2 linked regions of the Homo sapiens genome follow. The protein of the gene in region 1 interacts with the protein of each later gene in a pairwise test. Each region holds a gene or a part of one and is shown in the gene's direction. Other genes may lie near its edges.

The links.
Region 2: the proteins of SLC2A5 (region 1) and USP40 interact in a two-hybrid assay, tested with the Homo sapiens proteins (one study listed by BioGRID).

The regions. Positions count from the first base shown.
Region 1 is NC_000001.11:9,065,082-9,081,694, reverse strand, and holds the start of SLC2A5 (solute carrier family 2, facilitated glucose transporter member 5), read left to right. Parts: upstream 1-12,059; 5' UTR 12,060-12,158; coding exon 12,159-12,191; intron 12,192-16,613. UniProt on the Homo sapiens protein: Functions as a fructose transporter that has only low activity with other monosaccharides. Can mediate the uptake of 2-deoxyglucose, but with low efficiency. Essential for fructose uptake in the small intestine.
Region 2 is NC_000002.12:233,515,669-233,532,344, reverse strand, and holds part of USP40 (ubiquitin carboxyl-terminal hydrolase 40), read left to right. Parts: intron 1-2,832; coding exon 2,833-2,914; intron 2,915-4,766; coding exon 4,767-4,938; intron 4,939-6,782; coding exon 6,783-6,867; intron 6,868-7,782; coding exon 7,783-7,853; intron 7,854-8,855; coding exon 8,856-9,175; intron 9,176-11,230; coding exon 11,231-11,354; intron 11,355-12,673; coding exon 12,674-12,731; intron 12,732-16,676. UniProt on the Homo sapiens protein: May be catalytically inactive.

The DNA.
Region 1 (16,613 bases):
ATGCCAAGTATCTTTTCATGTGCTTCTTGGTCATTTGCATATCTTCTTTGGAGAAAATAATCTATTCAAGTGTTTTGCGCATTTTGAATTTGGTTGTTTGTCTTTTGTTGTTGAGTTGTAAGAGTTCTTTATATATTCTGGATACCAGACCCTTATAAGATATACGATTTGCAAAAATTTTTCTTCTAGTCTCTTGTCTTTTTACTTTTTTTTTTTTTTTTTTTTTAAGAGAAGGAGTCTACCTCCATTGCCCAGGCTGGACTTGAACTCCTGATCTCTCCTGCCTCAGCTTCCCAAGTCGCTGGGAATATAGGCACATGCCACTGTACCCAGCTCATCTTTTTACTTTCTTGATAATGTCTTTTGAGGCACAAAAGTGTGGGTTTTGTTTTGGTCGTGTTTTTTTTTTTTGGGGTTTTTTTTTTTTTTTTTTCTGAAACAAGGTCTCATGCTGTTTCCCGGCCTGGAGTGCAGTGGTATGATCACAGCTCACTCCAGCCCTGACCAGTCAGGCTCAAGTGATCCTCCCACCTCAGCCTCTTGAGTAGCTGGGAACAAGGGCATGTGCCACCACCCTCAGCTAATTTTTTTTGTTTGTTTATTTGTTTTTAGTATTTTTTGTAGAGATGATGTTTCACCACATTGTCCAGGCCAGTCTTAACTCCTGAGCTCGAGTGATTTGCCTACCTCAGCCTCTGAGGTGCTGAGTTTGCAGGCGTGAGCAACCTCACCCACCACTTTTTCATTTTGATGAGGTTATTGGCAACCTGAAATAATTGAAAGGATCAGAATCCAGTTTAAAGGAGTTTATTCAAGGCCAGGCGGAGTGACTCACACCTATCGCCCCAGGCGAGAGGGATTAAAGGTCCCATAAGCACATTCCTTTAAGACTCAAAATAATTCCAGTTTCCAACAGCTTTGATTTTGAATTATTTGTTTTCACATTATATATAAGCTGGCTCCTGCACATCACTGGATATTATTTATGGCCTGCCTGGTCTCATTTTCTGTGGTCAAAGAGAGTGGTCTCATTAGGAAAGAACTTGAATAGACATTTCTCCAAAGATGTACAGACGGCCAACACGAATGTGAAAAGATGCTCAACGTCACTCATCATTAGGGAAATGCAAATCAAAACCACAATGAGAGCTCACCTCACACCTGTTAGGATGGCTACTACCAAAAACAACGATAACAGCAACCACAGCCCAGAAAATAACAAGTGCTGGTGAGGATGTGGAGAAATTGAAACTCTTATATACTGTTGGTGAGAACGTAAAATGGCGTAGCTACTGTGGAAAACAGAACGGTAATTCCTAAAAAAAATTAAAAATAGAATTATCATGTGATCCAGTGATCCCACTTCTGGGTATATATCCAAAATAATTGAAAACGGGGGCTCAGCGAGATACTTGTACACCCATGCGCATAGCTGCATTTCTCACAATTGCCAAAGGTATTAATAGAAGCAACCCAAGTAACCTGACAGATAAATGGGTAAACCAGATGTGGTGTGTGCACAGTGGAGTATGATCCAGCCTCAGAGAGCAAGGCAATCTTGTTCCATGTTACAGCATGAAGGACTCATGAAGACATGCTCTAAGTCTTCGGAAATCAGTTACAAAAAAGCAAATACTGCATGATCCTACTTACATGAGGTATTGTGAGTGCCCAAATTCGTAGAAGCAGAAAAGTAGAATGGTGGTTGCCAGGGACTTTGGGGAGGGAAAATGGGGAGTAGTTGTTTAATGGGGACGGAGTTTCAGTTTTGCAAGATGAAAAGGTTCTGGAGATCTGTTTCATAACAATGTGAATATACTTACCACAACTCAACTGGTACATTTATTTAAAAATGTACAGTTAAAATGATAAGTTTTATGTTATGATGTTTTTAAAAAGAGGGATATCGGCTGGGCGTGGTGGCTCACGCCTGTAATCCCAGCACTTTGGGAGGCCAAGGTGGGCAGATCACCTGAGGTCGGGAGTTTGAGATCAGCCTGGCCAACATGGTGAAACCCCGTCTCTACTAAAAATTCAAAAAATTAGCTAAGCATGGTGGCTCACGTCTGTAATCCCAGCTATTTGGGAGGCTGAGGCAGGAGAATCACTTGAGCCTAGGAGGCAAATGTTGCAGGGAGCCAAGATCACGCCACTGTACTCCAGCCTGGGTGACAGAATGAGACTCTGTCTCAACAAAATAAAGAAATAAATCAAAAATAAAAAGAGGAGTGTCTATCCAGGGTAATGTGTAACCGACAGAAGCCCCTTGGGTCCTGAAGAGCCTCTGCTGCTCCGGCTTTCACGTCTTCTGCCTGTGCTTCTCCAGGAGCACGCCCTTCCTGTGCACGTGCACTCTCTGATAGGCGAGGTCAAATTCTGTTCTTGGTGAGAAAACACATAGGCACCTTGTCATGTCTCTGAAGTTTACACCCCAGGCATATCAGAGCGTGATCAACAATCTCTCTGCCTCGGGGACATCTAGTAGGAGCTTGGAAGGGAGCTCAAGTGAGGACAGAATACAGAACTGGCTCCTGAAGGAAGATAAACTTGGAAGGCGCACGTTTTCTGGACCCTCCCTGCAGACTTGGGTTCCGGCGGCCAGGTGGCATGCCCAAGGTGGGGTGTGGCTTTTCACAGAAGAGGAAGAGGGAGACACCGCGCGTGGGCACTGGGGTTGGGAGGTCCTGTGTCAACCGACTGGATGCACTCCTCTCCCTTCCCCAGACGAGATACACTGCCTGTGCCAAAAGCAAAGCAAGGGCACTGTGGGGTGGTCAGGTCCACTCTGAATCTGTTAATGATTCCTTCCTTATCTAAATCTGGAATGTGGGAAAAGAAAAACAGCTGAGCAGTGTGAGCCCTGTGAGGTTCGCAAAATTTATTAGGCCCAGAGAGACGTGAGTGGGAACTTGAGTCACTTCCCCACCCATGTCCAGGGCAGCTATTTGACGACACTTTGTTCCTGATAGCTGCCTCACCCATTTTCTTCAGGGTTTTGGAATTCATGGTACAAAGAACAATGTAGTGTGGATCTACAGTTTACATGGTTTTGATGTAAATTCTTGGTAAAGAACTGTCTCTTCTTTAAATGAAATGTTTTTCAATAGTTTTTGGGGATACAAGTGGTTCTTGGTTACATGGATAAATTCGTTAGTGGTAATTTCTGGGATTTGGGTGCACCCATCACCCAAGCGCTGTACACTGTACCCAATACAAAGTCTTCTCTCCCTTTCCCGCCTCCTGTCAGAGGCATTGGAACCAGAGCGACTCCATCTTGAATAGGGACCGAGTAAAGTGAGGCTGAGACCTACTGGGCTGCATTCCCAGGAGGTTTAGGCATTCTTAGTCACAGGATGAAATAAGAAGTCAGCACAAGGTCACAAAAACCTTGCTGATGAAAGGATGTGGTAAAGAAGCCACAAAAACCCACCGAAACCAAGATGGTGATGGAAGTGACCTCTGGTTGTCCTCACTGTCATTATATGCTAATTATAATACATTAGCATGCTAAGAGACATTCCCACCAGTGCCATGACAATTTACAAATGCCATGGCAACCTCAGGAAGTTACCCTATATGGCCTAAAAGCGGGAGGAGCCCTCAGCTCCGGGGAACTGTCCACCCCTTTCCCAGAAAACTAGTGGATAATCCTCCCCTTGTTTAGCAAAGAACAAGAACTAATTATAAATATAATCAGTTGAGCAGCCCAGGCCACTGCTCTGCCTGTGGAGTAGCCTTTTTTTTATTTCTTTACTTTCTTAATAAACTTGCTTTCACCTTACTCTATGGACTCACCCTGAATTCTTTCTCACACAAAGTCCAAGAACCTTCTCTTGGGGTCTGGATCAGGACCAACACTCCCATTGCCCCTCCCTCCCTCCTGTCCTTCCTTCCTTCCTTCCTTCTTCCCCTTCTTTCCCTCCCTCCCTCCCTCTCTCCCTCCCTCCCTCTCTCCCTGTTTCACCCTTGTTGCCCAGGCTGGAGTGCAATGGAATGATCTCGGCTCACTGCAACCAGGTTCAAATGATTCTCCCGCCTCAGCCTCCCGAGTAGCTGGAATTACAGGTGCCTGCCACCAAGCCCAGCTAATTTTTTTCTTTTTTTTTTTGTATTTTTAGTGGAGATGGGGTTTCACTATGTTGGCCAGGCTGGTCTTGAACTCCTGACCTCAGGCGATCCACCTGCCTCAGCCTCCCAAAGTGCTGGGATTACAGGCGTGAGCCACTGCGTCCAGACTTTTCTGGGGGTTTTTTTTTTGTTTTTTTGTGTTCTTTTTTTTTTGCTTTTTTTTTTTTTGAGACAGGTTTTGACTCTGTTGCCCAGGCAGGAGTGCAGTGGCGCTATCTCAGTTCACTGCAACCTCCACCTCCCAGGCTCAAGCAATCCTTCCACTCTAGCCTCCCAAGTGGCTGGGACTACAGGCATGCAGCACCATGCCTGGCTAATTTTTGTATTTTTGTAGAGACGGTATCTTACCATTTTGGCCAGACTAGTCTTGAACTCCTGAGCTCAAGCGATCTGCCTGCCTCAGCCTCCCAAAGTGCTGGGATTATAGGCATGGGCCACCATGTCCAGCCTTCCTTTTTTCTTTTAAAAACCCACTTGTAAGGCTTGGCATGGTGGCTCATGCCTATAATCCCAGCACTTTGGGAGGCTGAGGCGAGCGGATCACGAGGTCAGGAGTTCGAGACCAGCCTGGCCAACATGGTGAAACCCTATCTCTACTAAAAATACAAAATTAGCCATGCGTGGTGGCAGGCGCCTGTAATCCCAGCTACTAGGGAGGCTGAGGCAGAAGAATCGCTTGAACCCGGGAGACGGAGGTTGCAGTGAGCCGAGATCACGCCACTGCATTCCAGTCTGGGCAACAAGAGTGAGACTGCATCTCAAAAAAAAAAACAAAAAAAACACCACACTTGTAACTATTGCTGATAGGAACATAAATTCAGGGCAACTTGAATCTATGCTCCTGGGTTGCAGTCCTCAAACTTGGCCCAAATAAACTCTCTACTTGTATGGATTTCACCTCAGTTTTTTCCTTTAGATTAATAAATGGGTGTGGCCAAGAGCCATTTCCTCTCCCCATCAATCAAGCAAGCCAAATATAGACACCACCTTGATAGCAACCCCGTTTTGTGCATCAAAGGCACATATAGGCATTTCTGCTATCATGTGATATACCTGTTCCTAAAGAACATGACATTCTGCCAAGTGGCACATCAAAATAACAGGGCTTAAGGGGAGAAATGACTGGCAAGGACCACTTGAATCCTATGCGGTTTTACAATCTGAACACAAACAAGTATAAATGCAGTCTTGATAAGCACAGCAGCTAGGGCAGATCTCCATCGCCTGGGGGAACTTCTGCTTTCTCTTCTCAGATTAGGGTCTTTGGGCCTTTCACTCCTAGTAGAGCTGTTTCATCAAAATTGAAAATCCGGCCAGGTGCAGTGGCTCACGCCTGTAATCCCAGCACTTTGGGAGGCCGAGGCGGTCAGATCATTTGAGGTCAGGAGTTCTAGAACAGCCTGGCCAACATGGCGAAACCCCGCCTCTACTAAAAATACAAAAATTAGCCAGGCGTAGTGGCGTGCGTCTGTAATTCCAGTTACTCGGGAGGCTGAGGCAAGAGAATCGCTTGAATCTGGGAGGTGGAGGTTGCAGTGAGCTGAGATTGTGCCACTGCACCCCAGCCTGGGCAACACTGTGAGACTCCGTCTCAAAAAAAAAAAAATGCCGGGCGCGGTGGCTCACGCCTGTAATCCCAGCACTTTGGGAGGCCGAGGTGGGTGGATCACCTCAGGTCAGGAGTTCGAGACCAGCTTGACCAACATGGTGAAACCCCGTTTCTACTAAAAATACAAAAATTAGCTGGGCATGGTGGCAGGTGCCTGTAATCCCAACTACTTGGGAGGTTGAGGCAGGAGAATCACTTGAACTTGGGAGGCCGAGGTTACAGTGAGTTGAGATCATGCCATTGCACTCCAGCCTGGGGGACAAGAGTGAGACTTCGTCTCAAAAAAAAAAAATTGAAAATCCAATGCAGGCTATAATCAATTAAAACAAACAAATTACATATGAAAATATCTTCAACTGTCCTGCTAACTCCACCATTTAGTTTAAGATTATTGAAAGGGTCACAGGGGAGTGACAACTGTCTGGGCCAGTGGCACGGGAGTAAAAGAATTTACCAAGACAGTTGTAGGTAGAGAAAGATAGATTTATTAGAGAAAGTAGGAAAATATGTTGCAAGGAGGCAACGGGCGGTATCAGCAGAAGAGGAGCGGACTGCAAGGAAACAGGCTTGCTGGAGATTTTATAGGATGGCTCTTGGGATGTTGGATTACGCCACGGCTGCAGGAGCTAACCTGCCTTCTTCTGTCAACCGGGATGTTTGATAAATTGAGGTGTTTGATGTGAAACGGGAAGTCTGTGAGTTATGTGTGTTATTTGCTCAGGAGGGCTACACTTCCTGGGACATAAACACAGACAGACCTATAACTCATCTGCTTCCTCTTTGTTTATCTGTTGTGGACCATGAAGAGAGGCAGATTTATAGCTTATTTGCTTTCTCTTTTGCTTTCCCCTGGTGCTGCCAACCTGACTCCTTTTCCCTAATTAGGACTCCACAGAAAGCTTGGAAAGCACTTCTTTTTTTTTTTGTTTTGTTTTTTGAGATGGGATCTCACTCTGTTGCTCAAGCCGAGTTCTGTGGCTCAGTCACATCTCACTGCAGCCTGAAGTTCCTGGCTCAAGCAATTCTTCTGCCTCAGCCTCTCAAGTAGCTGGGACTATAGGTGCACACCACCACACCCAGATAATTTTTGATTATTTGTAGAGATAAGGTCTCACTGTGTTGCCCAGGCTGGTCTCGAACTCCTGGGCTCAAGCGATCCTCCTGCCTCAGCCTCCCAAAATGCTGGGATTACAGGAGAAAGCGCTTCTTGAAATCACAAAACCAGCCCAGAGCCCTGCAGAATTTTCAGCGTTTTCTCTTTAAGGTCTTCATATGTTGTGTAAAGGAAAATAAAAAACTCAGGACCCCAATTCACTCTGCCAAAAAGGAAAAACAAAATTAAGCTGAAAGCTGAGTCATGCAAGGAGCTGTCTTTCCTTATGTTCCTAAGCAGACAGCGACAGATAAAAGGTTAAGTATCCCCACAAGTAGCTACTCTGTGTTCACCTCACTTTATGTAAAGTGCTGATTTACTGAGCAAGAGACAGACATGTAATTGCTGATTCCTCTACTTGTACCTTTTCTCTTGTAACATGTAGGTTACCATACTCTCCCTCTTTCCCCTCCAGCCAGCTTTTCTTTAAATATCGACGCCCTCAAAATCATCTTTGGAGAAAGGCACAGACCACAGACTATTTCTGAGATTCTGCTTTTTTCTTCTGGGCATGTCCTTAACCTTGGCAAAATAGACTTCTAAATTGATTGAGACCTGTCTCAGATACTTTTTGGTTTACAGTTGCTAAGCCTTGCTCTTTCATTGAGAGAATGCTTGCCCCCCTCCGCTCCACCACCACCTCAAACTATTATATGAACATGCTGCTAAGAACACAAACACAATTTCTGCATTCTACTGACGTATTTTTTTTTTTTTAATTTTTGGAGATGGAGTTTTGCGCTGTCACCCAGGCTGAAGTGCAGTGGTTTGATCTCAGCCCACTGCAACCTCCACTACCTGGGTTCAAGCGATTCTCCCGCCTTAGCCTCCTGAGTAGGTGGGGTTACGGGCTCCCGCCACCAAGCCTGGCTAATTCTTGTATTTTTAATAGAGACCGGGTTTCACCATGTTGGCCAGTCTGGTCTTGAATTCCTGTAATCCGCCTGCCTTGGCCTCCCAAAGTGCTGGGATTACAGGCGTGAGCCACCGCGCCCGGCCAGCATTCTCTTGTTTACCATCTGCAAATGAACTAACTAACTCACAGTACAGAAGCATGTACTGAGTGAGGCAGAAGAGACTCCACCATTTGCACCACCAGGGGCTTTGGTAGAATATCTTCCTGTTTTCTGTCCTAACAGATTTTCAGGCATCCATTTAATAGTTCTACCAGTGAGAAACGGTTTCAGCTGCAAGTGACAGAAAACAAAATGAAGTATTTTTCTTCCCTACTAAGTCAAGTTGGTGGTGGGGAGCTGGGATGGTGCTCCACAGGGTAAGGGGCCCCAGCTCCTCCTAGCTTGGTGCTCTGTCCTGTGGGGCTTCAATCTCAAGGCCCAAGCTGGTGGCATCTACATTCCAGGAAGCAGGATGGAGAAATAGGCAAAGCTAAGAGAGCAAAGTTTCTGGAAGCTGCCTGCCATATGGCATCTTGCATACACTGCATTAAGCGGAACTTTATGTCTGTACTGACTGCAAGAGCAATGGGGAAATGTCTTTATTTTGGGCAGCCGCAGGTCTTGTTCCCAATTCTATTACTACAGAAGAGGCACTGACCAAATGGATTTATGGATGGGGAGGAGAAGCCATTAGCAGCCTGTACAAAAGAGGCCCGTGGCAAAACTTTAAAATTCTAGAACATTCCTAGCAGAGGTGAGGCCAGTAGTGACTGAAGTCCTGGTATCATTGTCTGGTCACAGAACAGCCCGGAGATGTGCCAGCTTGCTTTGTGGTATGGTGTTAACCCAATATTTTGCCCTGGTTAAATTTTTCTTATATAAAACATTTGCTTTTCATTCTGATTCAGAAAAGTAACTTTTATTTCTGTTTTACTTTTTTTTTTTGGAGACAAGAGTCTCGCTCTGTCACCCAGGCTGAAGTGTAGTAGTGCGATCTCAGCTCACTGCAACTTCCGCCTCTTGGGTTCAAGCGATTCTCCTACTTCAGCCTCCCAAGTAGTTGGAATTACAGGCGCACACCACCACGACCGGCTAATTTTTTTTTTTTTTTTGGCATTTTTAGTAGAAACGGGGTTTCACCATGTTGGCCAGGCTGGTCTCGAACTTCTGACCTCAAGTGATCCACTTGCCCCAGCCTCCCAAAGTGCTGGGTTTACAGGCTACCACGCCTGGCCTAGTTGTGTTTTATTATAACAGTAACAGAAACGCTCCTATTTCCTCTCCCCCATCCTATCACCAAGTGATTGTCAATTTTCCATCCTAAATATCCCTCAAGTGTATCTACTTCTGTCTTCTCCATCCCCATGCTGGTCCAAGTCACATTGTTCTTTCACCTGGGCTACGGCAAAGACCTTCCACTGCTCCTTCTCCCCACTTCCAAATCCAGCGGTCTCTTGTCCCCTCATCAGTTCACCTCTGGACATCCAGATGGAACTTTAATTTTTAATTTTTTTTATTTCTAGGGACAGGGTCTTGCTCTGTCACCTAGGCTGGAGTGCAGTGGCATGATCGAATTCCTGGGCTCAAGCGATCCTCTTGCCTCAGGTTTGCCAGGACCACTCCCCTCCCCCCAGTCCCACCTCACCGCTGCCATCCCCCTCCTCCATCTTTGAGCCACTAGGCTTCTCACAGTCTCCCACCCCGCCCTGCTCGCGGAGCCTGCAGGCCTCGGCCTCATGGCGGCCTGAGGCAGGGGCCTGGAGGCTGGTCCGCCCGCCACGAAGGTTGGGGGGTCCCTGGCCAGAAGCAGGACCCGGGCGAGGCTGAGGGGGACTCTGGCAGAAGCTGAAGGGGACCCGGGTGAGGCTGAGGGGGACTCGGGCAAAGGCGGAGGGGAACCCGGGCTGAGGCTGGGGGGGATCTGGGCTGAGGCAGAGGGGGACCGAGGCTGAGGGGGACCCGGGCTGAGGCAGAGGCCGAGGGGGACCCGGGCTGAGGCAGAGGCCGAGGGGGATCCGGGCTGAGGCAGAGGGGTCCTGGGCAGGGACAGGACCCACCCGGAGCCCGCAGGCCCGCCAGGCAGAGGGACTGGCTGAGCGGCCCGCAGCCTGGCGTCATGACGGCCTCCCGCCACGCCCCCGTCCCCGCGCTCGGCTCCCTCCAGGGCGGAAGCACGGGTCGAGCGTTGGTGACGCCATGGCTGTGCTTGCGACGCCCTGTCACTGGCAGGAACCGGGTACTGCGGCCCGCAGCTCCCGGGATGATCCCCTCTGGGCCTGAGGGCCTGGCTCACTGTCCCCGCTTCCCCGGGCTGGGCCGTCAAGGCGGGGACTGGGAGTGTCCGCGTCCCCCCCAGCGACCCCCGGTTTTAGTTACCCCCTCGCCCAAAGGCAGGGAGAAGTGGAAGATCTGGGCCTAGATAGAAGCAGGTGTCATGCACTTGACATGACTGATGACTACAAACTTTGGACGATTATTTTTGGGGGGAGGATGGGGGACGGAGATGAGTCTCGCTCTGTCGCCCAGGCTGGAGTGCAGTGGTGTGATCTAGGTGCGCTGCAACCTCCGCCTCCCGGGTTCCAGCTATTCTCCTGCCTCAGCCTCCCAAGTAGCTGGGATTACAGGCGTCTGCCACCATGCCTGGCTAATTTTTGTATTTTCGGTAAAGACAGGGTTTCACCATGTTGGTCAGACTGGTCTCGAACTCCTGACCTCAGGTGATCCACCCACCTTGGCTTCCCCAGGTGCTGGGATTACAGGCGTGAGCCACCGCGCCCGGCCGGATTCTTCTTTGTGTTGGATTGCACACCTGTACCCGTCTCCTCACTCCCCCATCGTTGATTTCCTCTCCCCACCCTACCCCTGCAATTAAAGTGCATTTTCTTTGGAAACTTTTTCTAGATCTTTGAAATAATTGGAAACCTCTGGTCTTGCTATGCGTTAGTCACAAGTCAGTGTGCTAGGACAGTGATACGCAGAAGAAAAAGACAGGCAGTAGCTGGTGAAAGGGAATGCTGAGTTCTCCCTTGTGAATAGGGACCCCCCCGACCCCCCAACACACACACACACACAGACGGCCACGCTGCTAGGCTTCTCACAGTCTCCCACCCTGAGCAACCCTGGGGATTTGCTGCTAATGCAAGGAACAGTGCCTAACACAGGCTCCCAGTCTCTGCTTGTTTAAAGATGCATGAGATTCAGAATCAATCACTAAAGTAACTGGATTTACGCCACAGCAAATAGAACTGGGAGTATGTTCTGTAAAGATGAAAACCTGTGGGACTTGTGAGACTTTGGATTTTGGCCACTTGCGCTGGTGTGCCCTGTGGCAGCTGAATGAGTGCCAAACATGGGGGGCTGACAGTGGCCTGGCCTTGAGATGGCCGGACCCGGACCAGCAGGTGTGACTCATTTTCCCTGCCCTGCCTGGAAAGGGGTTCGAGGTATTTACCACCTTCCCAGTAGTGATGAATACACAGAAAGTAACATCCCTAGGTCATTCTGAGCTCCTTAAAATGGAAAATAAGAGGCCGGACACGATGGCTCACGCCTGTAATCCCAGCACTTTGGGAGGCCAAGGAGGGTGGATCACTTGAGGTCAGGAGTTCGAGACCAGCCTGGCCAACATGGCAAAACCCCGTGTCTACTAAAAATATAAAAATTAGCCGAGCGTGGTAGTGCACGCCTGTAATCCCAGCTACTCAGGAGGTGGAAGCAGGAGAATCGCTTGAACTCGGGAGGCGGAGGTTGTAGTGAGCTGAGATCATGCCACTGCACTCCAGCCTGGGACAAGAGCGAAACTCCGTCTCAAAAAAAAAAAAAAAAAAAAAAAAAAACAGAAAATGAGAAACTTTCCCCAAACAGTATTACACGGTGACTTGGGCAAAACTGACTCTCCACCAAGAGACACTTGACTGTAGTTTTCCTGGCAGGGAGAGCATCTTTGAGGTCTCTAGTGGCCCAATCTGTTGCCCTCAGATTACCTGGTGTCATGTAGGGTGGAGGACAGCTGTTGTTTGCCATGCGTTCCTGACAGAAATAACCCTTCCAGTCATTCACCATGAGCCTGACTGGTAGAGACTTTAGCAATGGGGAAATACCGTAGACTGTTCCATCAGGACAATGCTGGGCCTGCAGTCCCCAGGGGGCACCCACTTACTTAGCCAAACCCCAGACGTTTCATTTAAAAGCAGAAGTGAAAGGAAGACCAGGTTCCTGAAAGGGTTATTCTGACTTAATCTGGCTATAAAAATGCTATTGGCTGTTATTTGGCATGGCCAAAGTGCACCCAGAATGTCTTCTCTCTCCATTCAGTGCACGCGTTACTTTGGCTAAAAGGAGGTGAGCGGCACTCTGCCCTTCCAGAGCAAGCATGGAGCAACAGGATCAGAGCATGAAGGAAGGGGTGAGTGTGTTGCTCAGGGAAAGGGGCCAAGAGCAGGCTTGGCTGCCAGGGCCTGTGCAGCCTTCCTGGAGAGTCGCTGGGGGGCTCCTGGTGTTGCAGAGGGAACTCTGTGTTGGGAGGGATTATGGTGGGGAGAGGGGGAAAGTCTTGTCCAGCAGGTGGTCTTTTATAGGGAGGAGAGAGGTTTAGAGACAAGTGCTCTGTGGAAATCATTCTACTGGAACAGCCTTTAACAGCAGGATCTGTAACTGAATGGAAGAGACCCAAAGGATTCATTTGTCCCAACTTGAACCAAACATGTTAGCTGCAAAATCCTTCTATGGTTGGTGAGATGTTTCGCTCTGCTTTCGTTTTGCTTTTGGCTTCAGGGCAGTTAATTTTTTCAGCAAGTAACATAGCTGAGCTGCATGAAAGCAAGATAAACTCAGAAAAGGCGTTGCTTGATTTGAATTTAGTTCAGATCTGTCACGTAGGTTTCCTGCCTTTTAGATCCTGAGGCTCCCTTGTTTTAGAGAGGAAAGATTTTCATGGACTCCTGCAACGTAATTGCAGTTTACTTTCTAGATTCCCTTGATTGAGGAAAATGCATAATGTCAGAAAAGTAACACTGACTTATTAACACTTTATAAGAATTTGCATTTATTCATCACAATAGCATCTGCTTATATTTGGAGTGGAGGAAGGATAGTGCACATTTTTGCAAAACAGCATTTGTTCAGGCATGGATGTGAGACCCTCACCATAGGCAGACTGGAAACATGCTCTGTAGCACATAGATTAAGAGTGGGTCTTGGGAGGCTGAGGTGGGTGGATCACCTGAGGTCAGCAGTTCGAGACCAGCCTGGCCAACATGGTGAAACCCCATCTCTACTAAAAATACAAAAATTAGCCAGGCGTGGTGGCAGGTGCCTGTAATCCCAGCTACTCAGGAGGCTGAGGCAGGAGAATCACTTGAACCTGGGAAACAGAGGCTGCAATGAGCTGAGATCACGCCATTGCACTCCAGCCTGGTCAACAAGAGCGAAACTTCATCTCAAAAAAAAAAAAAAAAAAAGAGTGGGCCTGGGAAGTAGAAGCCCCCAGGATTCATTCCTGCTCCATCCTATTCTAGCTGTGGGACTTGGGTAAGTTCTTTAACTCTTCAGTGCCTCAGTTTTCTCATTTGTAAAATGGGAGTAATAACCATACCGCCTCATAGGGTGCTGGAGCAATTAAATGAGATAATGCATGTAAAGTACCTGGCACAGAGTGAGTTCCCCGTAAATGTTACTACTTTTCTTTCTCTCTCTCTCGCTTTTTTTTTTTTTTTTTTTTGACACAGAGTCTTGCTCTGTCACCCAGGCTGAAGTACAGTGGTGCGATCAAGGTTCACTGCAACCTCCACCTTCTGGGCTCAAGCGATCCTCCCACCTCAGCCTCCCAAGTAGCTGGGATTACAGGCATGCACCACCACACCCGGCTAATTTTTGTATTTTTAGTAGAGATGGGGTTTCACCATGTTGGCCAGGCTGGTCTAGAACTCCTGACCTCAGGTGATCCGCCCGCCTCGGCCTCCCAAAGTGCTGGGGTTACAGGTGTGAGCCACCGCGCCCGGCCATCGTAAATGTTACTACTTTTCAATCATTCTTTAGGCTGGTTTCTCCACCTCCGCGTGATTTCCATTTGGCACTGGCTAACGCTTCGTTGTAGGGGCTGTCTTGTGTGTTATAAGATGTTTAGCCGCGTCCCTGGCTCTACCTTCTAGACGCAGTAGCTCCCTCCCCCAGGAGTGACAACCGATGTCCCCGAGAGGGCAGAATCCACTCCCAGCCCTCAACTGAGAGGCACTGCTTTGGAGTCTACTCAGCCCCTTCGCTTGGGTCATCTTGTTTGTCTTACAACTAAGAAAGTGTTAGACAAATCAAGTGTCATCACCTCCATTTTATAGAAAAGAAACGGAGGTGATGAGGACTTAGGTGTTTGGGGTCCAGGGAGGTCCTCCGCTGTCCAGAGAAAGGCACAACTGCCACGTTCCCCACGTCCACCAAGTCCAGCTGCAGAAAGGAATGGAAACACCCCCACGTGGCAGGCCCTGAAACTGAGTAACACATTGCGAAAGGAAATGATTCAGATGGCCACATGCGAGAGGCATGGGCTGACCCAGCTGCCTGCTGCCTCAGCCCTCCAGGGAAGGAAGCCTCCTCTGGGCCAGAGGGATGAAGGTGGGGATGGGCTTCCCGCTCCTGAGAGCAGCCTGCCCCTTGGGGAGAAAGCTGGGGCGTGCTGGGCTTCCCAAAACACTCTGAAGGAAGCGATCCCAATGGTCTGTAAGAATCCGGGAAATCATTAAGTGCAGCCGAGAGGGGAGGTAGGAGCCAAGGAGAAATGCGGGGGCAGGCGAAGGCTACAGAGGCTGCGCGGTCCGGGGAGGAGGGCGTCTGGCAGTATGGAGCCAGCTGCCTGCCCCTCAGTGGTTGTGTGGCAGTGGCCTCACTGGCCTTTTCTCTTCTTTTTCTTTCTTTTTCCTTTTTTTTTTTTTTTAATTTTGAGACAGGGTCTTACTCTGTTGGCCAGGCCAGAGTGCAATGGTGGGATCATAGCTCACCGCGGCCTTGAAGTCCGGGGCTCCAGCAATCCTCCCACCTCAGCCTCCCGAGTAGCTGGGACTACAGGCATGTAGCACCACCCTTGGCTAATTTTTAAATATTTTGAAGAGACGGGGTCTCACTATACCCAGGCTGGTCTTGGGCTACTGGGCTCAAGTGTGCCTTCTGCCTCAGCCTCCCAAAGTGCTTGGATTGTAGGCCTGAGCCACTGCACTCAGCCCTGCTTTTCTCCTATGTAGAGGGCAAACACTGACATCTATCAGATGTGCACCAAGGACTTTCTGCCAGGAAGAAAAGACTGTTGGTCTGAAAGAAAAAAAAATAAAATGGATTAGGAAAAGAAAAAGGTACAACAAGGTATTTTACAACTACATAAGAATTGAGGGCCAGGTGCAGTGGCTCTGGCCTATAATCCCATCAGTTTGGGAGGCCGAGGCAAGCGGATTGCTTGAGCCCACAAGTTTGGGACCAGCCTGGGCAACATGGCGAAACTTGGTCTCTACAAAGTGTACAAAAATTAGCTGGGCATGGGGACCGTGCCTATAGTCCCAGCTGCTCTAGAGGCTGAGGTGGGAGGATCGCCTGAGCCTGGGAGGTAGAGTTTGCAGTGAGCAGAGATAGTGCCACTGCGCTCCAGCCTGCGTGACTCCAGCCAGAGTGAGATTCTGTCTCAAAAAAAAAACAAAGGATTGTTGAATAAAGTTCCCCACCTCAATAAAAAGATGCCGAAGTGCTTTGGAAAATAAAGACACATTTTTGTGGAGTGGCTCCACCAGCAACTAGTTGAGTATCCTAGAGCAACTGACACCCCTCTGTGCTCTCCGGGTCCTCACTGATATTCATTTGTAATTAATGGATTAATTAACCCATTTGTAACACCTACTACAGACCAGGCATGGTCCTAAGTGTTCTATACCAGTGAACTCATTTATTCCTGTGGTGGTATCATTATCCTCAAAAAAAAATTTTTTTTTTGAGGCAGGGTCTGGCTCTATCACCCAGGCAGGAGTACAGTGGCACAATCACGGCTCATTGCAGCCTCCTGGGCTCAAGAGATACTCCTGCCTTGTTTTTAAATTTTTTCGTAGAGACGAGGTCTCACTATGTTGCCCAGGCTGGTCTCAAACTCCTGGGCTCAAGCCATCCTCCTGCCTCGGCCTCCCAAAGTGCTGGGATTATAGGCATGGACCACCAGGCCAGGCCCATTATCCCCATTCTAAAGGTGAAGGAACTGAGAAGCTCAGGGAGTTGCCCAAGGCCACACAGCCCAGCAGAGCCAGGCTTCGAGCCCACACTCCTGGGCTCCAGAAACTGTGCTCCAAACCACCGCAGCGGCTGACGATGCTCATCTCTCCCTGCCCCTCCCACTACCTGTTTGTGAAACTGAGTTCAACAGTGTGATAAAGTGACATAGCTTGAAGTACTGATCCTCCATGAGCGCTAACTACTCCGGGGTGTTTGCATTCTGACTGCAGATTCCTAACAAGGAAAAGCTTTGAACTGAGAGAATGTCTCTCTGACAACAGAAACTTCAGGATGGATTTCTAAGGGAGATGGTTTGGGCTTCCTTCCCAGTGACCTTGAATCGTACCCTGTCAGAAGGTCAGCCTTGAGGATTGTCAACCTAAAAAAAGAAACTGTAGCAAAATGAATGTAGAGAGTGTACTGGGGCCAAGGTTGAGGACTGTAGCCCTGGGAAACACTGGGAAGTACTTTGGAGAGCATAGGAGAAGTTCAAGTTTTTAAAGAAAAAAGGACAAATCAGGAGAGGAGTGATTACAAACGGTGTTTGTTAGGAATTCTCACTGGTTTAGAGAAATGACATTGATTTAGTGAT
Region 2 (16,676 bases), on another chromosome or scaffold:
AAACATCTGATTGGTTGCAGAAAGCAACCAATCAGAGGCTAGGTTGAAGTTACAACGTTACACTTATTTGCAAACGAAGACATAGCTGGCAATCAGTCTGATTGGCTGCAGGCAACACCCATTCAGAGGCTGGAGTGAAGTTGCAAAGATGCAAACGAAGACCCTACCAGCAATCAGTCTGATTTGTTGCTCAGTCTTATTTGTTGCCAACAGCAACCATTCAGAGGCTGAAATGGTTACAGAGTTGCAAACGAAGACTCCACCCACTGTCTGATTCGTTGGGGTCAGCCAATTTCCTATGTGTGCGCAGAAAAGGTCAAAGGAAGTAGCCTCTGGTCCTTGTGTTACTTAGGAATGGAAAGTTAGGGTGTTCCTTTCAATTTAGTTCTAGGAAGTCGGTGTGAAACAGCCTTAGGTTCCCTGTCTCCAGACCCTATTCTCCTGCCTCACTGGGATTACAGGCATGAGGCCTAGTAAGATTTTTCGATCACTTCTCAAAGTCCGCTCAAAAGTTAAAAACCCCAGTGAGAAAAGCTTTATAGATTGAGACATATCTATTATTAGAGATGAGAATATTGTTCTTAGAGAATGAGAATAACCATCATTTTTATGAAGAATAAGAATAAAGCAGTTACTAATTTGCATGTGAATCAAAGGAAATTAACTTTCCAGATCTAAAACAGTTACATAACTATGCTGTTAATGAAAAAGGCTTTGTATTTTTCTGGGAGGAAAAAAAGATATGGAAATGGTTCTGGTAAAAATATTGTGTATCAGAATTCACAGTTATAGAAATATATACTATCAGAAAAAGAATATCTTCAAATGGAGTATTAGTCTTTTTCACAGAATTGAATTTTAGTGTGTACGTAATTGGAATATGTAAATGACAGTTTTCTTGTTAGCTTAGGAATTGAACAAAGATCCAACAAAAAATCTAGGTGTACTTTTTTGGGAATGAAGGGATAGAATTTATAAAATGATTCTAAAATTCACCTGGAGAAATAAAGTAATAAAAACTGAAGAAGAGAAGACTGAGGGAGAATTTGCTGTATCAGTAAAAACATATTTATAAAGTTATAGCAATGAAGACAGTGTAGTGGTAATGCAAAAAGGTAGACAGATCATTGAAAAAGAGCAGTAAACCCAGGAGTTGATCTAAGCATATTTGTGTTTTAATCCGTGGTAAGGTAGCTCTTCAGATATTTTGGGGAAGGAAGGGAGTGAATTACTCAATAAATACAACTGGGAAGTTGGTTATTTGCTAGGGAAATAACTAAGCCATTTTTCTTTGTTATACAAATCACTTAAATGAAATTATAGTTCCTTTAATATTTATGTAAAAAAGGAATCGTAAAATGTGTAAAATATAAATATTTGATCTTAAGGTAAAGAAAACCTTTCTAAGCATAAAAGCAAAGAAAGAAAAAACTAGGGCAAAGTGATATAACCCTTAAAACAGAATTAAAAGGCAAATGACAAGCTAATGGAAAACAGTAAAATATATGACAAATTAATTTCCCCTATCTGTAGAGTGCGCTTACATATATTTCATTGTGCTCAGTAGTAAATTGGGGAAATGATATAAATAAGCAATTTACAAAAAGAAGATTCCTGTGTTTCAAAAAATTTTCAATTTAACCTGTAATCAAAAAGAAGAAGAAGAATGGCAATGAGATGAACATTAGTGAGATGCCCCACCAAATCAGATACTATTTCTGTGACTCTTGGGTTTCAACAGGTGACATTTCCTCCAGAGCTGGTAGGTATGGAATACAATCAGTTTGAGTATGTGTATTTAAAAGCCTTGAAACTGTCATACCGTTTAAACCAGTAATTCTACTTTCACAAGTTTGTCTTAAAGTAATCAGAGCTGTATATGAATGTTGATGCTCAAAGATGTTTATTGTTCCTACTATTTTAAAATAGTGATTAATTGGAAATCACCTTAATGTCTAACAGAAAAAGATTGGTTAGGTTAATTATGCTCCTTATAGAATGGACTACTATGTAATCATTTATTTAAGACTTTGGAAAATACAGTGTATGAAATGAAAATAGATTTGTTGAATATTATCCCAGTTTTTAAAATTGTGTGTGTTTGTGTGTGTGCCTGTGTGTGTGTGTGTGTGTGTGTGTCTTGGGAGTGAAATTATGAGCAGTATCTATTTCTTTTACACTTAAAAAAATTCCAGAATTTTTACAGTAGTCATTTATTGTATTTGTAATCAAGATGAAAATCTGAGGCCAGGCGTGGTGGCTTATGCCTTTAATCTCAGCACTTTGGGAGGCTGAGGCGGGCAGATCACTTGAGGCCAGGAGTTCAAAACCAGCCTGGGCAACATGGCGAAACCCTGTCTCTGCTAAAAATACAAAAATTAGCCAGGCGTGGTGGCAGGAGCCTGTAATCCCAGCTACTCAGAGGCTGAGGCACGAGAATTGCTTGAACCTGGGAGGCAGAGTGAGCTAAGATTGCGCCACTGCACTCCAGCCTGGGCGACAAAGTGAGACTCCGTCTCAAAAAAAAAAAGAAAAAGAAAAAGAAAAAAAAAAGATGAAAATCTGGGTGTTCTTTTTAAAAAGTATACTTAAAAGAGTTGAAAAAATGGAATTCTTCTAGCTTGTCTTAAAGAAATGTTTACTTTTCATTTGTTCTAACTTTTTCATTTTTCAGATGGGAAAACTGAGATCCTGAGAAAATTCGTATTCACACAGCTAATTAGTAGCAGCTTTCCTAGCTCCTAGGACAGTCCTTCCTAGTCTTCATGCTACCTCTTCCAGCAACCAGATTTCATTTAGCCAACACAAGTTAATGAAAAATTTTGTTCACAGCTCGAGCTAATCCAAGATATGGGGTTCCATGTCATTTACTGAATGAAATGGATGCAGCTAACATTGAACTGCAAACCAAAAGGTAATTTTAAATTGCTTTTAGAGTTTGACTAGTATTCCGGAGAATAAAGATCTGATTTAGGCCTTAAGCATTCAGTAATGAAAATTAAAAAGAAAAAAAATAGTCAACTTGTTAATGCAAGTGTCTGTTTGGCTGCTGAATTTTTATAGTGAGGGTAACTTTAACTCTGAAATTATCCCTTATGTGTGAGAGTGAATTAAATGGTGACATATAAAACAGCCATTGCTAAGTAGGGATCGAAGCCTAACAAGAGTAGAGAAATCAGTGAGCACATAGTTGGGCTGAATGAATTGTATCCTGGCCTGGCCAGATTATTTCCTTGGGTCCAAAGAGAGCCTGCCATGAAAATCACCCCTCATAGGTAAGTAGTTGTAGCGAACTGGCATGTAGTGAGAGAGGATCAGTGGTGGGCAGATTTTCAAAAGGAGGGAAATATGGATGCTATAACCTATTGAATGCAATGCTGATCTTGGGGGAAAGCCTATGATGGATTCTTACTTAAAGAGATGGTTTGTGAGAACTTTATGATCTCAGCATTCTCTTTTGGGGCCTCACCTTTGACTCTGAACTGCTTCTTTATTTGTGCTCTGTTAGGGTCAATAGGGTATTGGGTTAGGAAAATGGATGTTACCGTGATCTCCTTGTGGACCAAACTGCCTGATTATGTGACAGGGTGTATTTGACATTTTTATCATTGGCTTGGAGCTGGGGGAAAAAAGTACAGTGAATGACACGAGCAAAGAAACAACAAAAACCAAGATACCAAAAAGATTAAAACTTAACAGAGCGAAATATCTTAAGTCTAAAAAATAACCTGCATAAGTGGTCTGGACTAGCAGTTGTTATTTTAAAAAAATAAAAATAAAAAAATAAAAGGCAGAGCCTGAGGGGCTGTCATCAACCCGCACTAAGGTCTTTCGTGTGGTTGTGCTCTCTGACCATGTTCATTGAAGTGTCCTGAAGTACGTGAGTTGCGTGATAAGCCTCATTCCAGCTCCACATTGGTCAGACCCTACCTGTGTTTCGCACTGGCTTCGAGTCAGCCAAGTGGATTCAGAGAAGAGCAGCCAACACCAGGCTGCTGCCAAGGACTTTTAGCCTGGATAATGTGGTCTCGGGAGGTTCATGCTACTGGCTTCAAATATTTCATGGGGCCGGTCGCAGTGGCTCACGTCTGTAATCCCAGCAATTTAGGAGGCTGAGGCAAATGGATCACCTGAGATCAGGAGTTCAAGACCAGCCTGGTCAACATGGTGAAACCCCATCTCTACCAAAAATACAAAAATTAGCCAGGCATGGTGGCACACACATGTAATCCCAGCTACTCAGGAGGCTGAGGCAGAAGAATCGCTTGAACCTAGGAGGTAGAGGTTGTAGTGAGCCAAGATCGCAGCACTGCACTCCAGCCTTGGCGACAGAGTGAGACTCTGTCTCAAAAAAAAAAAAAAAATCATGGGAGAATGTGCAAAATCTAGTGGAAATAAGGATGATAGATGACATGGAAGTAAATCTGCTACTTAACATAATGATGTAAGCAGGTCTCTAGCATTTTGTTCATAACTATAATATAATCTCAGAATTAGAAGATTTCAAGTGTCAGCCTTTGTTCAGAGAAATGGAGTTAACATTGCAGCCTATGTTAAAACAGTTTTCTCTTGGAATTCATGGTGACAGAACTGAATTTTTGCTATTGACTGAAAAATTAAAGTGACTAATTGTGGCACATAGAAGAAAAATTGTTACTTTGGTGGGATGGAGAACTTTATTGTAAGCCAGATATCTTTGGTTTGAGATAAAACACAGTGTCTGTTATAAAAACACAGTATTTATGTATTTTTGTGCCTCTTTAAAGGGCAGAATGTGATTCTGCAAACAATACTTTTGAATTGCATCTTCACCTGGGCCCTCAGTATCATTTCTTCAATGGGGCTCTGCACCCAGTAGTCTCTCAAACAGAAAGCGTGTGGGATTTGACCTTTGATAAAAGAAAAACTTTAGGAGATCTCCGGCAGTCAATATTTCAGGTAATATCGCCTTACTTCCTCTTAATTCAGACATCGAGCACCATCTCCAGCTAGACTCTCCATTTCATTCTGTTTAGGATACAACTTTATTTTTCAAAGCTGCTTAGGAAGATCTGACATCTGCCACTTCATAGAGGGTTGACCCAAATCTTCTCTCCTAAGTCTTTTAGAGAGGCTTTTCTCCACAGCTCCTACCAGCAGCTTTTCAGGTAGACAATCAGGCCTGGTACATTTTATTTGAGGGGAAGAAAGAGTATAAAGTTGTCTCTTTTTTAGAAAATAAATGAAAGCAAATTGCCTTTCAAAGAGAGTGAAAAGATAAAGATGAGCATGTTGTGTAAAACTGAGAACTGCTGAACAAATAAACGCAACTAACTTTATACCCTGTAGTATAGAACAGTATTTATTAATAATATTCTTAAGTGAAGGAAAGTATCTGCTAGTCTAGAGTAAAAACAGTGCTGTAGTCTCCAAGTCATTTTTCTAGGTATGTTTTAATGATGATAGCAACAGCAGTGTTCTTTATTTTACTTACACTGCTTTCATATAAATCATGTGATTTGGTTCTTTAATCTCATGAAGACACATTAGCCCCATTTTGAAGTTGAGGCAGTGTGATTTAAAGAGACTCAATGTCTTGCCTGTGGTCCTAAATCTAGTTGATGGAGCTGGGACTCTGTCCCTCTTCTCCCTACTCTTCATCTAGGGTTTTTTTCTCCTAATCACCCTCCTGCTCCACACTACTTTCTGATCAAGGAAAAGGGAGATAGAAAATGTTAGCTTTTTTGTGTTTTTTCCCAGAAATTAGTTAAATGAATTTTCTGAAAAATCCTATTACCAAAACTATTAGCTTTCTTTCAATTTTCTTCTGCTAAGAAAAGCAAAGCAATTTCCCTTTTAACCTTAGTTGATTTGAAGTTTTTTAAATACTAGATCAGTGTCAGGATTTCTAAAGTTGTCTAATATTTCTGAACTTTTTCATTAGAAATTTATTTCTGAGCCAATTCTGGCACTGTTGATACAGGCAGATGTGGGAATCTGAACCTAGTCTAGGGGGATATTTTAAATGGAAAGGATCTTATTCACTTTGTAAGTGTGAGGTACACTCCAGTCTGTGTGTTTTGGTGTTTTAAGTGTATATGCCTACTAACTATTCTCTTAGAAGGAAGCCACTGACAAGAGGCTAGAAAACTTAATTCACAGCAAACTAATCACTTGTAAATAAGAAGTTTCTTTTTAAGAAAATACCTTATGGTATTGTAGAGAATGACTAGATAGGAATGACTTTTATGGTGATATTATTTTGGTGACCTTGCCACAGTGCTCAGACTCTCAGATCTAGAAACTTAAAGAGCAAAGCCATGGTAATCTATTAAGTAAACTGGTAATGCACCTTTATAAATTTGCAATGGGAGACATTCCTTTCAAGCAGCTAGAAGATGAGTGTGTGCTAGAGTCAGGGCTACATTTCCCTCAACATTGCTAATTCTGCAAATTAGTCTTGCTCTTTTGAGTAAAAATTCCTAGGCTGACATGCTCATCAACTTGCTTTCTGAGAAAAGTGCTCTTCATATATATTAAGCAGAATTGTTTAGATGGTTGTTGTGCCCTTTGTGTAGGCCAGAATTCTTCACTCAGGAATGGAGGAGATTAGCCGTCTTTGGCTTTGACTAATTTAACAAGTGATGCCTTCTTTTCAAGTTTTCGGTGTTGGGTGGGGGTGAGAGTATTCATTTGCTTGCTCTCTGTGTCATCTTCATATGTGAGTTGGCACAGTAACCTGGAAAGGTGATATGTATATGTCACTTTTCAACATTCTCTTTTCCTTCATTAATATTCTTCAGCTGTTAGAATTTTGGGAAGGAGACATGGTTCTTAGTGTTGCAAAGCTTGTACCAGCAGGACTTCACATTTACCAGTCACTTGGCGGTAAGATAAATATGAAAACATAGCAACTCACTCTATATATCTACATTTTTGTCCGGCTCACCTGCGATTTTCTACTCTTTGTCAGTCCTTCCCCACCTACTACTTTCTTAACTAAGTAGATTATCTTCACACTGTAAGTTTTCCAAAAGAAATAAAATATCCACGTTTTAATGTATCCAGTTTATATAATGTGTGAAATTCTTCTAACATGGAAACATTTTATTTTTTCTGAAATTAAGGCTACCTCTACTAAAATTTCTTGAAAAGCTTTAGAATTTTTTATATTGACACATATTGTTGAACAACATAGTTTCAAACCATCTGAATCATATTTATGTGACTTGATTTTCTGCCCAGTTCTCAGCTTCAGATTTTGTAGTAAAACAAGAAATACTTTGAGAGTTTGAAAGCATTTACTTCCTTTAAATAGCAGGAAAACAATGAGAATTAACAGTAGCGGCAGTAACATCTAATTTGGGCCAAAATCTGTAATAGGTGTTTTATGTTAATTATCTCACTTGATTTTCATAAAATTCTTTTATCTCCATTTCATAAATGAGAAAACTGAAGCTGAGAGACTTGAAGCACACAATACAGCTTGTGTTATGGACATATCGGTGGAGTTGGGACCATTCCATGCTTAAGCCTAACTCCTGTTTCCAATGTCATGTGCCTCAAGTACACTTGACCTTTGGATTATCTCTCTTGTCCTGCCACCATGCTCACAAGCTTTTGTCACAACGTTTTAAAGAAAAATTACAATGAAATAATGTCAATAGAATAAAAATAATTACTACTTTTTAAATTTTCCTTAGTGAAAATACTTTTTCAAACAAATATTTGTCTCAGCTCTTTCTTTAGCTCAGTTGTTTCTGATGGTCATGATGAATGGTCTCACTGGTGATCTCTTTCTAGGGGATGAACTGACACTGTGTGAAACTGAAATTGCTGATGGGGAAGACATCTTTGTGTGGAATGGGGTGGAGGTAAAAAAAATTACTGAAGAAATATTCGTGATAATTTTGGATGTTTTAAAAGTCATCGTAATGGCCGGGCATGGTGGCTCATGCCTGTAATCCCAGCACTTTGGGAGGGCGAGGCAGGCAGATCACCTGAGGTCAGGAATTCAAGACCAGCCTGGCCATCATAGTGAAGCCCCATCTCTATTAAAAATACAAAAATTAGCTAGGCATGGTAGCGTATGCCTGTAATCCCAGTGACTTGGGAGGCTGAGGCAGGCGAATCGCTTGAACCCGGAAAGTGGAGGTTGCTGTGAGCTGAGATTACACCACTGCACTCCAGCCTGGGTGACAGGGCAAGACTCCATCTCAAAAAAAAAGTCATTGTAATGAAATTTTATTCAGCCTATGTGAGGGCAATTAGATATTAGAAAACTACTGAAATGCTTGATAAATGTTAGGGACAATCAGTGCTAGTTGTACGCCAAGGAGACATTTCTTGAGCGCCTCCGTTATACCAGGTTGTGCGTCAGATGCTAGATCAAAGGCCAGTCAGTTGATCTGTGTCCTTTTAGGCCCTCGTCGTGTGAAGAACTGCACCATACGTGCTGGAGTAGGGGGTCTGTGCATAGTGCCTGTGGGAATTTAGAAGAGTGAGAATCTATACTGAGTTGGGGAGTGGGGGTGGTTTGGAGGTAGAGAGTGAATTTTCTATCTCTAGAAGGCGGCCAGGAGCACTTCAGCCACTCTGTGAACTGACCTTGGCCAATCTGGCTTCATCACCACCCATGATAACTCATAAATGTCTATCTCCAGTCTATCATAGATTTCTCCTAAAAAAATAAAAGATAAGAAAGTTTCAAAAGAAAAATCTGAAGTTGTTCCTCTGATGCTTAACAGACATTTGTGAAAATTTTATTTTACTTGGAAAAAATGAGGGTTGTTCTCTAAGAGTAATCTTTTACCATGTTATGTTGACGGTGTTGGCAAATATCAGCTGTACTAATGGTTGTCTTGGTATGATTGCAGGTTGGTGGAGTCCACATTCAAACTGGTATTGACTGCGAACCTCTACTTTTAAATGTTCTTCATCTAGACACAAGCAGTGATGGAGAAAAGTGTTGTCAGGTGATAGAATCTCCACATGTCTTTCCAGCTAATGCAGAAGTGGGCACTGTCCTCACAGCCTTAGCAATCCCAGCAGGTGTCATCTTCATCAACAGTGCTGGATGTCCAGGTGGGGAGGGTTGGACGGCCATCCCCAAGGAAGACATGAGGAAGACGTTCAGGGAGCAAGGGCTCAGAAATGGAAGCTCAATTTTAATTCAGGATTCTCATGATGATAACAGGTAACTCGCTAACAAGAGAAAAAGGATTTCTAAAAGTCATTTTAATTACAGTACCACCCAGCAGAACTCTAAAGCTTTATTTTAGTGACAAGAGTTGAATGTTTCTTTATTTCTAGACATTATGTTCTAAATATTGCATACAGGAATGTTTTAGGTTATGTAACTTAGAGAAAAACATGATTTTTTGTAAAGGGACTTTTTGGTAAATGTGGTGAGAAAATAATATAAGTATCCCTGATTTTCTAGACTGTATAGAGTATCAATTAGTTGGCTGTAATGCAAAAGTTATCAAGTGAATTCTGATTAGTGCCAGTTATAAAACCGAAGGAAATTCTCACAGAGAAAACTGAAAATTTTCCTGAAGAAGGTATTAACATTATGGCTAAATTGTTTCTGGATATTTTGTTTCAGGAGACCCATAAGACAACTCATTGTTTCCTTATAATCCGTTCTGTGACTCTTGAGAACCCAGTTGCCCAAATAGAGCAGTTACGTGGCGAATTACCCCCATGAATCCTGTGGTCACATTTAAAGCTGCATCTCTTTGTCATCTATGTCTGTGACAGTACATTGCTGTAGTCAATGTGTCATACACTGTAACTGCAATATTTCCATATATTGAAGACTTCAAGCTCCCTGTTTTCTCAGTGCTACAGATTTACTTAGATTGCAGGATGTCTGTATCATTATTTATAGTGGCTTTGATGCAGAGAAGCAGAGCACTTGTGGACCGTTTCTTTCGTAGTACACTTACCACTATTACTCTTTTGGACAGGGGTTTTGCAGACATTCCCTACCTTGTTTATAAGAACTGTATTTCCTTTATAAAAGGCAGTATGCATTTATTGGGACTGGGGAAATACAAAAGTGAAGACAGAAGGGACCCAAAACAGTATCCGTCTTCTCAGCATGCAGTGTTAATCACTGTTAGCATTTGGGTGCCTTTCTTTTTAAACCTAATAATGATTATTTTGTAGATAAGTAGTTGTATCCTGCTTTCCATTACCCCTGCCCAACCTTGAGATTTGTAGACTCTTTATAAACTGCCTTGAATGGCTACATAGTAATCTATGTGACATTATAGTTTGCCTAACTGTGCTCCTAGGCAAGTCAGTAGGCTGTAGTGGGACCTTGGGCAAGGTATTTCGTCTTTCTCTGCTCAGTCTTCTTGTCTGTCAAATAGGGATAATAACTAGTGCCAACTTCATAGACTTGAGAGGATTGAAAGAGTTGAGTGCTTACAAAGTACACACAGTAAGTGCTAAATGTTTTAGTTAATATATTACGGTCATTGTCATAATTATCATACAGTTTTTCACTATTTTAAAGTAGTCTTCATGGAGCATCTTGTGCTTCATACTTTGTTTTATTTGGGATTGCTAGCTTAAGGTAGGAGCTCAGAATGGAATAACTGCAATAAAGAGTAGAATGATGTTTCAGAGCTCTAATGTACATTCCCAAAGAGGACTTCGGCAAGCCCATTAATGCTTCTGTGTGAATTAGAAAGAAGGCACCTCTTCAGGACCCTTTACTACTATCTGTGGGAAAATGTTAGAACAAGATACTCTACTGCCGGCTGCAATTATAAAACAAAACTCTATGTAGAAATGCAGTATACAATATATATGCCATGTGTGACACTCCTTAGATGTGGCCCTTTTGTGCAGTGTCAGTCTACAGACTGCACATGGCTGCCCTGTTGTTAAATGAAATCTAGATCCAGTGGGGTAGGCTCCTGGCATAGGTGCTCTTTTAAAGCTCCCCTAGTGATTTGCAGGGTGCAGGCAGAAGCCAGCAACTGTTTACTTACAGAAGTTCTCTGTGAAAAATGTGGCAACAAATTATGTAGGTAAATCAAAGAATATTTGGAGTCATGAATATAGACTCTATAGACTACTGCCTAACATTACCCTGCAAAGGTAGCCCACTTATCATAGAGACGACTCAGTAGAACTTGGTCACCTCTAATTAGTCACATTAAGTGACACATGCAGAGTTTTGGAAGTGATGCCTAAGGAAAGGTATTAATTTCTGATCTTTTCTTTTTACCTACAGCTTGTTGACCAAGGAAGAGAAATGGGTCACTAGTATGAATGAGATTGACTGGCTCCACGTTAAAAATTTATGCCAGTTAGAATCTGAAGAGAAGCAAGTTAAAATATCAGCAACTGTTAACACAGTGAGTAGAATATAATTAAAGGTTGGCTGATAGATTTTCAGTTAACAGAATTTTATTTAGAAAACAATACCTTAATCTTTCAGAACAGTTGTCTCAATAGACTTCAGCTCTTAGGAAGTCAGCTTTTTATTTAACATTTGATTATTGCTTGTTTACCTATGTTAGCCCTTAGCATATTTCAAGAAAATACGTGCCTTTTAAAATTTCCTCCAAAGCCTAGAATTAGAATGTGGGAGTTACTCATTTAGTTAGTTCATGGAATTCTCTGGCTCCCACAAAATGAAATTCTTTGGCTTCCTTGAAAATGCTGTTTTCAAGGGTCTTTTCTGTATTTTTTTTAAGCCAAGTATACATATGTTTTGGTTTTGTGTTGTGGACTTCTGTTTTTTAAATTTATCTTAAATTGTTTTACATTATACTCTGTTTTTCTGTAAAGCCAGGTGTTCTTAAAAGGAACTCTTTCAGTTCTCCATTTGAAGACTAGTTTCGTTAAACACCATCTCAGGAAATACCTTTTTATATTTATGTAGTCTCAATTCATTATGGGTTTTTTTTCTATAACAAGTTGAAACTTACTAGAATGTTGTTTTCTTTTATATAAATATTATAATTTCTTAAAGTGTGTTAATATTTACACTGTATGATGAATACACTAAAGTTCAGAAGATCTAGTACCTTGACCCTAAGTGAGAGACTTTGGTGAAGTCCTTTATGACTCACTCTGTTTCTTCTTTTCACAATGTGGGGTGCTGTGGGAGGACAGATTGTCTGACATCGGTTTTACTCCTAAATTTACAAGATTTTGTATCCTAGAGGAAATTAGGTTAAACTGAAAAAGGGAAAGAATCTAAAATAAAGTCATTTAAACAGAAATTTTAAATAGTGCACTCGGGCTGATAGTATACATTTTTATTTATGCTTACTGGCCCCACATTCATCATTCCTGACATAGAGAAATGTGATTGCCTGCAGTTTATTTTGTTTGCTTTCATGAGAAAAGTTACTGGTTTGTCAGCTTATTGCCTTTCAGCTAGTTTCTTTAGTTTCTGTAGTTTTCTACAGTTTCTGTAGTTTTCTGTAGGTGTCCTTTCTGTTCCAATTAACATCAATTTGGTAAAAACTTAACTATGAAGTCCTAAGTTTTTGCTTTTGATCTTATAAAAGGATTTCAGGGATGGAAAAATTTCCAGTGGGCAAAAACTACTAAATGTCAGGTAATTAATATCTCAAATAATTTGTTTATGCACACAGTGACAATCCTCATTTTCATCTCCTCCCATTTTTTACAACTTAGTCATTATTTTATTTCTCTGTTTTAGATGGTGTTTGATATTCGAATTAAAGCCATAAAGGAATTAAAATTAATGAAGGAACTAGGTAATCATTTACATTTTCTTTTCGGTTCTTAGTTTAGCTTAATTTTGGTCTTGAATTGAAGAAAATATAGGAGAATACAAAAAACAGTTTAGGGAGAACTCACATACCTACCACCCAAAATGGACAAATATTAACATTTTGTCATATGTTTGTTTTTGTTTGAAACATTATAAATGAAGTTAAAGTCCCCTGTGTTCTCCTCCTCAGACCTATTCTTTCTCTCCTTCCCCAGATACAATGAGTATATCTGATGTGGGTGTGTATCTAGTCCATGTATTCATGTTGTACTATACTGAATGTATATTCTGCAAACTCACTATTCACTTACCATTAGGCTTTCTGTGACAGCCTTATTAAGATATAATCTACATACCATAAAATTCACTCAGTTTAAGTGTTTAATTCAGTAATCATCAGTAAATGTGTAGAGTTCTATAACCATCACCACAATCCAGTTTTAGAATACTTCCATTACTCCAAAAATATCCCTGTACCCATCTGTATTCCAAGCCCCTGGCAACCACTAATCTGCTTTCTGTCTCTATAGACTTTATTTTCTTAATGTTTAATGTAATTGGAATCATAAAACATATAGTCTTTTGTGTCTGGCTTCTTTCACATAGCATATCATTTTTGAGGTTAGTCCATGATTTAGTACGTATCAATAGCTTGTTCCTTTGCATTGCTGACTAGTCTAGTATTCCATTATATGGATAGTATCACATTTTGTTTATCCTGGACAAACATGAATTGATAGACATTTGGATTGTCTCTACTTTTGTGCTTTTATGAATAATGCCACTATGAACTTTTACACATAAGTCTTGGTGAGGAGATATGTTTTCATTTCTCTTGGGTACATGTACCGGATTGGAATTGCTGGGTCATTTGCAAATTTATGTTTAACTTTATAAGAAACTCTCGCACTATTATCCAAAGTGACTGAACCATTTATACTCCCACTAGCAGTGTGTCAGGGTTGCAGTTTCTACATGTCCTTGTCAATCTGTGATTAATTGTGATTATCTTTTTTTTTTTTTTTTTTTTGAGACAGAGTCTCACTCTGTCAGCCAGGCTGGAGTGCAGTGACACGATCTCCGCTCACTGCAACCTCCGTCTCCCAGGCTCAAGCAATTTTTCTGCCTCAGCCTCCCAAGTAGCTGGGATTACAGGCGTGTGCCACCACGCCCAGCTAATTTTTGTGTTTTTAGTAGAGACAGGGTTTCACCATGTTGGCCAGGCTGGTCTCAAACTCCTGACCTCAGGTAATCTGCCCACCTCGGCCTCCCAAAGTGCTGGGATTACAGGCATGAGACACTGAGCCCAGCCATCTTTTTTTTTTTTTTTTTTTTTTTTTTTTTTAGAATCTGTTACTGGTTTGGTTTTGACTTTTAAAAAAAAAAACATATTTTGAGCACATTTTTTATTGTTATTTTTTCCATAGGTTATTGGGGTACAGGTGGTGTTTGGTTACATGAGTAAATTCTTTAGTGGTGCTTTGTGAGATTTTGGTGCACCTATCACACGAGCAGTATACACTACACCCTATTTGTAGTCTTTTATCCCTCATCCCCCTCCCACCCTTCCCCCCAAGTCCCCAAAGTCCACTATATCATTCTTGTGCCTTTGTGTCCTCATAGCTTAGCTCCCACGTATCAGTGAGAACATACGGTGTTTGGTTTTCCATTCCTGAGTTACTTCACTTATAATAATAGTTTCCAATCTCATCTAGGTCACGGCAAATGCCATTAATTCATTCCTTTTTATGGCTGAGTGGTATTCCATCATACACACACACACACACACACACACACACACACACACACACACACCACAGTTTCTTTATCCACTCATTGATTGATGGGCATTTGGGTTGGTTCCATGATTTTGCAATTGCAAACTGTGCTGCTATAAACATGCATGTGCAGGCCGGGCACAGTGGCTCACGCCTGTAATCCCAGCACTTTGGGAGGCCGAGGCGGGGAGACCACAAGGTCAGGAGATCAAGACCATCCTGGCTAACATGGTGAAACCCTGTCTCTACTGAAAAATACAACAAAAATTAGCCAGGCGTGGTGGTGTGCGCCTGTAGTTCCAGCTACTGGGGAGGCTGAGGCTGGAGAATGGCGTGAACCCGGGAGGCAGAGCTTGTAGTGAGCCGAGATCGCGCCACTGCTCTCCAGCCTGGGTGACAGAGCGAGACTCCGTCTCAAAAAAAAAAAAAAAACAAAAAACCATGCATGTGCAAGTATCTTTTTTGTATAATGACTTCTTTTCTTCTGGGTAGATACCCAGTAGTGGGATTGCTGGATCAAATGGTAGTTCTACTTTTAGTTCTTTAAGGAATCTCCACACTGTTTTCCATAGTGGCTGTACTAGTTTATGTTCCCACCAGCAGTGTTGAAGTGTTCCCTAATCACCATATCCACACCAACATGGCCATTCTACTGAATGTGAATTAGTATCTTAATGCATGTAAATTTAGCAAGAACTCAAAATCATATACAGAAATTCATTGCCTTTTTACCTACCAGCAACAACAACAACAAAATCGACATCAAAATTAAGAAAACATTTATAATAGCATAAAATATTATGGGATACTTAGACATAAATGAACAAAATATGTGCAAGACCTGTACACTAAAAACTAGAAAATACTGCTGTGAGATATTTAAGAAGACCTGAATAAATAAAGCAATATACAACATTCACAAATCAGACAACACAATATTCTTTTTTTTTTTTTTTCAATTCGAGACGGAGTCTTGCTCTGTCCCCAAGGCTGGAGTACAGGGCAGCAATCTTGGCTCACTACAACCTCTGTCTCCTGGGTTCAAGCGATTCTCTTGCCTCAGCCTCCCGAATATCTGGGTTACAGGCACCTGCCACCACGTCCAGCTAATTTTTCTTTTTTTTTTTTTTTGAGATGGAGTCTCGCTCTGTCACCCAGGCTAGAGTGCAGTGGTGCGATCTTGGCCCACTGCAACCTTTGCTTCCCGGGTTCACGCCATTCTCCTGCCTCAGCCTCTCGAGTAGCTGGGACTACAGGTGCCCGCCACCAGGCCCGGCTAATTTTTAGTGGAGACAGGGTTTCACCGTGTTAGCCAGGATGGTCTTGATCTGCTGACCTCGTGATCCGCCCGCCTAGGCCTTCCAAAGTGCTGGGATTACAGGTGTGAGCCACTGCACCTGGCCAGATGATACAGTATTCTTAAGAGGATAATTCTTCCCCATTTGATGTGTAGATTTAATATATTCTTACACAGAATCTTAACATTTTTTAAAGAAATTGACAAGCTGACTCTACAATTTTCATGGAAATACAAATAATTTAAAGTGGCCATAACACTTTTGAAAACAAGAGAACAAAGTTGGAAGAGTTACACTATCTGATTTCAAGGCTTACTCTAGACAGTGTATATTGGCATACAGGTAGACATATAGAGAGGAGGTCAGCAAACTATGGCCTACAACCTGTTTTTTTTCAGCCAGTGGGCAAAGAATGGTTTTCGCACTAGTAAAGGGCTGTTTAAACAAGAAGCATGTGCAACAGAGATCACATGTGGCCCGTGAAGCCTAAAATATTTACAGTGGAACTCAGAGAATCTAGAAATAGGTGCGTAGTCATTGACTTTCAACAAAGGTGCCAAGGTATTTTCATGCAGAGAGATAGCATTTTTTCAACAAATAGTGCTGGGCCATTTAGATATTTGTATGTGCAGAAATGAACCTCAAGCTTTACTTCGCCTGATGCAAAAATTAAATGGATCATACAACTAAAAGTTAAAACCTAAAACTACAAAATTTCTGGGAGAAAACATATGAGGAAATCTTTGTTACTTTATCATAAGGAAAGGTTTTTGTATTAAAGATAGGACTCAAAAAGCACAAACCATGGAAGAAAAGCCTAATTAATTTACATTAAAATTTTAAACTTCTACT